2 separate regions of the Homo sapiens genome follow, and region 2 is linked to region 1. Evidence: fine-mapped expression QTL. A gene starts in region 1. The other region holds a variant in brackets. All regions are shown on one strand. Distances are between the middles of the regions. Region 1 holds the start of MSANTD2 (Myb/SANT DNA binding domain containing 2). Region 2 holds the start of ESAM-AS1 (ESAM antisense RNA 1).

Region 1 (2,891 bases):
TAAAAAAAACTAACATACATTTGTTATTTTAAAAAATATTGCATAGTTTATTTGCATTCATTGGTCAGCATCCTCAGTTATGTCTGCTTTGAAAGAAAAATCCGCTGAGGTTTTAAGTTAATGATCCAAGATATCCAATTAAGATTTTCAGCTTTGAAAAATATGGAAATACGGTACAGCTGTGTACTGGATGTGCTGTGCTACTGTTAAGTTCCAGCACTTTAAGGAACGTTTCAGGAGTGACTAATACACTAATTCATTACCAGAGGTCACAGAGCTGTCATAATTGACAGTGTTCTTTGAGTACGAAAAACCGGAAAACGATGCAACTTCCAAAGCACGGAGGATGGAGACTGGTATTGGAAAGTAACTTTTCTGCTGGGCTCAGGAGTTTTTATATGCTCAAGCTATAGACAACTGTACCAACGCAATAGACTAATGTAATCTAACTATTCTACAAACGGCCACACCTACCCAGACTAACTGGAAAACAATAGTTTATAACTGGAATTAAATAGTTGCTGTTCTTTAATTAATGAGATCGGTGTTCTTGAAAAGCTACAGCGTACGAACTCTACCCTGGTCCATATCTGCTTTTTAAAGCCTTCCCCAGAACCGCTCTCACTTCAGCCTTGGTGCCTTCCCGGATATACCCTCCAGAGGCTTCCCCGGTCCCCATCCTGGACGTCAGCCTCTGCACCTAGAGGCCGGCTTAGAGGGAAGACGGGCAGAGGCGGGGGAGACAGGAGAGAGAGAAACGGTCTATTCCTCCTTAACTCCGGGCCCCCTCGAGGGCCTCACCCCTCCTCCCGGGGGCTGAGATTGGAGAGGAAGTGGGAAGGCTCCAATCTGTTCCTCACTCCAGCGCCCTCATGCCCCCACCCTTCTCTTCAGCTCGGGGCTTCGGCGCGCCTCGTCCCCGCCCTTCGCCCCGGGAGAGGAGCGGGCGGCGTGGGAGGGCTCGCGGAGAAAGGCCCAGGGGAGTGGACGACCTCCGCCCGGCAGCCACATCCTCAGCAGCAGAGACCCGGAGCCATCCGCCCGCGGGCGAGCCAGGCCCGAGGGCAGCCCCGGAGACCGCGGTGGCCGGATGCGCGGGCGCGTCACTTCCGGGCGGTGCAGCGGCGGCCGCTTGGAAGATGGCTGCGCCCTGTGGCTCGGAGCTGCCCGCCAACTCGCCGCTAAAAATTCCGAAGATGGAGGTGCTTTCCCCGGCTTCTCCTGGTGGCCTGAGCGACGGAAATCCATCGCTGTCCGACCCTTCCACGCCTCGGGGTGCCTCCCCGCTCGGGCCGGGCAGTGCGGCGGGCTCGGGGGCAGCGGCGTCCGGGGGTCTCGGGCTGGGGCTGGGGGGCCGCAGCGCCGCCTCGTCCTCGGTCTCCTTCTCCCCTGGTGGCGGCGGTGGCGGGGCTGCGGCAGCCGCCGCCGCCGCCTGCCGGGGCATGTCGTGGACGCCAGCCGAGACGAACGCGCTCATCGCAGTGTGGGGCAACGAGCGGCTGGTGGAGGCGCGGTACCAGCAGCTGGAGGGAGCCGGCACGGTGTTCGGCAGCAAGGCCCCCGGGCCAGCCATGTACGAGCGCGTGTCCCGGGCCCTGGCCGAGCTGGGCTACGAGCGGACCCCGTCCCAGTGCCGGGAGCGCATCAAGGTAACCGGCCGCCCGGCCTGGGGCAGCGAACCAGAGGCAGAGAGAAGGCGGGGAAGCGGGCCTCGGGGGCGGGGGCCGGTCTGAGGGCAGGGCTCTCCTCCGGGGCCCGGTGGGCGATTCGCATCTCCTCCGCCTTTTTCTTCTCTCCCTGGGAAGGGGGCTTTTTCCCAGATGGCCGCCAGCCCGTAGGTTTCCTGAGTTTGAAGTTGGGCGTGCCTGCCGCCGCCCCTCTTTCTTGCCAATTGAGATGTTCCTGCGCTCTGAAGTTGGTAGTTTCTCATTGTGCGCCGTGCGGCAGTCCCCGTGCCGCTGGCGCCTCTTGCCCCCACCGCCGGGGCCCCTCGCTTTGTTCCAGGCGGAGGGGCTCCCAGGCAGAGGCTTACCGGCCGGGGCAGGATTGAGGAAGGGCAGAAGGGGGGGGCATTGAGCCCCTAGTTTAGGAATAGTTAATAAGTGGCCGTAGCGGAGCCATAGAAAAAGCGCCTTGGGACGACTGGCCTTTGTGTCAGTCGCTTTGCTTCTATCTTGAGCTACGAAGGACGAGTAAGACTAGAGATGCTTTGGAGAATTGGAAAGGCTTGATTGTAGCCAGATTGTGTATTGTTACCGCGGAGTTAGTGTACACCATAAAAGTTAGCTTGGCCAAGAGTTGGTCTGGAATTTGGATTGTCGATGCCTCCAGAGTTAGATTGGCTTGAGGCCCTGCGGTTTCTTAGGAAGCTCCTTCAGGAAAGCCAGTTTTTCCCTGCTTCAGTTTCTGTGCCGGATGTGGTGACAAGTAGAACTCTCAGTGTGCATCTGGCCGTCCTTGTGTACCTGCATGTTTAAATGCAGAGGCTTAATTTGGGCTAGAAATCTTAGCCAGGTTAAGATTTTGCTACTAGAACTGACTCTAGGCTTTCATATTTGTATTATTGGCAGATAAGGAGTTGTATTTTAGTTAAGCTCATTTCCTCATCGTAGTGGCTGCTAAAAAGATTGTGATAGGATTCTCCCAGTTTTTACTGAACTACTTATCCTATTATCTGTGCACTTCTTTTCTGATACAGCTGGCACTTTTTCTGGGAACTTCTTGAGGGGGGATAAAAACCACCAAGAACAATTATAAAATAAGAATGATCACACTAAAGAGCAATAATAAAGTCTAATAGGCGCAATCATGAGTTAGAGTAAGCTAAAGGAGGGAAATTGCACCAAAGTTCTCCAGGTCTTGGCTCCAGTAGTATTTCTTTGGGGATGTTG
Region 2 (2,891 bases), 41 kb after region 1:
CAGACTTCTCATCCCGCCTTTCCCAACTTCAACTTCAGCTCTGTTCCTTCTGCATTCCACCCCAACTCTATCCCCCTTCCTTGTGGGGGGTGGGGGCTGGGGGAATCTCTGAAGCCAGGGAGGACAGTTCAAGTTGACTGCCTGAGTGTCCCAGGCTTCACCTGCTGCTCATCTGCAACCCTTTGTCCTACCCCAGCTTTGAGCCTCAGTTTGTCAGACTGAAGACCTGGACTCAAAAGTTCCAATCGGTCCCCCTGGGGGGTTGCCCAGTTCCCGCCAGCCACTCGAGGGTTAAATGGCACTGGTGACCCCGGTGCAACGTGCAGGCGCCCGGCTCCGCTCTTCTGGGCTCTGGAGGAGGCTCTCCGGCTCAGTAGGCTCCTCGGCGGCTCAGTGCTGCTGCCCCTGGGGCGTGAGAAGCCCGCGGGGGGAGTTTCTCAGAGAAAGAGGGAGACTAAAAATAGCCCCGGGGAGCGGGCCCATTTCGCTCTCCTTCGGCCCCTGCCGGCTCCCTCACTCTGGCCTCGGAGAGGGCTGTGGGCCGGAAGGGTCCCTTTCTTGGGCTGTCCCAGTGTCCTTCGATCAGACCCAACCAGACTCCTTTTCTCTCCCAGTGGCTCCGTGGACCCTGGGACCGAAAAAAACGGACCAGTTGGTGACTTCCGAGCCAGCAGACACCCAGGAGGGAGAGCAGAAAAGCCTCAGGCCCTCTTCTGTTCCTAGTTTCTGACAGGGCGAAGGGCAAGGAGCATGTGCCCAGACCCCAGTGTGTCCGTTACTATCTCTTTTAACTCTCCTCTACCTTCTGGAAAGTGGAATTATAAATGTGGGACCTGGGGAGGTCGCTGGTGGTCCACAAGGTGAAGGAAGGGCGCGCCCCTTCTGGGCCCCAGGCAGTTTCCCGGCGGAAACCCTTTCTGGCCGCCGGGTGTGTGTCGTAGAAAGGCTGGGGGAGAGCCGGCAGCACCTGCAGGCTCCAGGCGTGCCCGGCCTCAGCGGAATGGCCAGCGGGCCGGGTCCCCAGGGGGCGTCCAGCTCCTTGAGGCGGGGATTGTTTCCTCCCGTAGAGCCTCCGGTCTAGTGGCCCCCCCTTCATTGTCTTCTGCCTTATCACTGGGTACAAATTTCCTGCCCAGACCACAGAGATCCTCCAGGAAATGGGAAGGGGGATGCTGCGAAGGCCAAGTAACAGAGGTGGGGGTTCTGTACGGCGCAGCCGGGAAGCGGTGGGGGAGGCTTGCATCCTGGCCGGATCGGCTCCCAGCCCTTAGAGGCCTTCAGCCTGGCTCTCCTAGGGCGAGGGTGGAGAGCGGGGCCTGGCTGCGGCCTCTTCCCGCGGCGTTGGCCGCCTGCTCGCCACGCGGAGGTGGCGTCTTCCGCTCCGAGGCAGAGGGCCGAGGCCTGGAGGGAGTAGGGCCCGGGACTGGAGCGGCGATCATCCTCAGGCCTGGCC[G/A]TGTGCAAGCCCAAGGTTATTCCCCAAAGGGCTTACCAGTTGGCTGCTCTGTTGCCTCCCCGAAGGGCAAAGGATGAGTATTTCTGGACGCCGTGGTGCAAACGATGGCCCCCTCCTTGAAACCAACACCCCGGTCCACCCCCTGAGCGCCGGACACACTCAGGGGAGGCTTCATACTTGTCTAGAGACCGTCGTTCGCGCTGCCCTTAATTCCTTGCCACCCGAGAGTTCTCTGCCCAGATCGCCCGAACCCCAGAAGGGCTCCGAGGAGCTTTCTGGGTTTCAACCCTCCGTTTTCCGAGGGAAGCCCGCCTCTGAGATTGCGCGGGAGGGCGGGGAGCATCGCATTCACTGGGTCAGGCTTGGGCGCTGGGCTGCTCTGCTCTCTCCAGCTCCTGGCAAGCTCAGAAGGAGCCGCAGGGTTAATAGGTAACCAGACGGCCTCCCAAACCCCTCCGCCCTTTGAGAACTCGGGAGTGAGGGACCCTGGCGGCCCGGAGCAGCATCCCTACTCTCCCTCAGGAAAACTAGGGAAGCAAGTGGGCTACGTGGCGCGTACGACAGAAACAGTCGGTCCACCCTTTCTTCTCATATCTTCCCCTCCTCGCTGGAAATCTGCCCCCTCTCTTTGATGCTCAGAAATCTGCGCCTCTGGATACGAATAAATGCATATAAATGTGTCCCCATCCCCGCTACAACTGCAGAGGCTGGCGGTGGAGAGAAGTCGTGATGAAATGGGAAGCAGGACACTGAGCCAGTGGTCCCTGGGCACCCCTTGAGGCCTCCAGGGGCCGGACCCCGCAAGGTTCCTCTTTCCAGTTAAAGCGACTTTCCTCGCTCTCTGGTGAAGCCGCGTAGGGCAGGGTCCGCGGGCGGAGCTGGGAGCCGGTCCTGGGCACTCACGCCTCGCTCTTGTCTCCAGCGCCCCCCTCGCGGGCCCAGCTGCAACTGCACTTGCCCGCCAACCGGTTGCAGGCGGTGGAGGGAGGGGAAGTGGTGCTTCCAGCGTGGTACACCTTGCACGGGGAGGTGTCTTCATCCCAGCCATGGGAGGTGCCCTTTGTGATGTGGTTCTTCAAACAGAAAGAAAAGGAGGATCAGGTGAGGGAAGAACGCCTGTCAGCCAGCGGCAAGTTGCGCCCAGAGGGGGTTGTAAGCAAAGAGCTGGTAGCGGTGGGAGGGGTGGAGAGGGAATGGGGGCCGGGGAAGGAGTTTCAGGGAAAAGCAGAAGTCTTCACCAGTTCAGTTTTTGTTCTGATATTGGAGACTTCCCAAACAATTATCTTTTGCCGGCTTTCCCTAAAAATCCAGCACACAAAATACTGTAAAAGTGTGAGAGGCATTTTACTTGGTTATGAGGGAGGAGAGGAGGAGGGGAAGAATGGAAGTTGAGGACTGGGAAACGCTTAGGGGAAGTAACACACACGACTTATAAAAG

What was found. PIP is the estimated chance that this variant, and not a neighbour inherited with it, causes the effect.
Region 2: its variant is the best candidate, but not a certain one, in a credible set for the expression of MSANTD2 in whole blood (TOPMed, PIP 0.51).

What each region holds. Positions count from the first base shown.
Region 1 is chr11:124,798,629-124,801,519 of GRCh38, reverse strand. It overlaps MSANTD2 (Myb/SANT DNA binding domain containing 2), which reads left to right and starts at 1,114. Exons shown (of 4, transcript NM_001308027.2): 1 at 1,114-1,649. The coding sequence starts at 1,140. MSANTD2-AS1 (MSANTD2 antisense RNA 1) reads right to left here and starts at 1,092. Exons shown (of 5, transcript NR_103862.1): 1 at 264-1,092. RefSeq lists silencers at 762-1,431, 1,472-1,711, 2,112-2,191, 2,422-2,471 and an enhancer at 928-1,535.
Region 2 is chr11:124,758,012-124,760,902 of GRCh38, reverse strand. It overlaps ESAM (endothelial cell adhesion molecule), which reads left to right. Exons shown (of 7, transcript NM_138961.3): 2 at 2,376-2,554. It overlaps ESAM-AS1 (ESAM antisense RNA 1), which reads right to left and starts at 1,769. Exons shown (of 2, transcript NR_120577.1): 1 at 1,490-1,769. RefSeq lists enhancers at 953-1,022, 2,516-2,675. The variant G/A (reference allele first, on the strand shown) is at 1,454.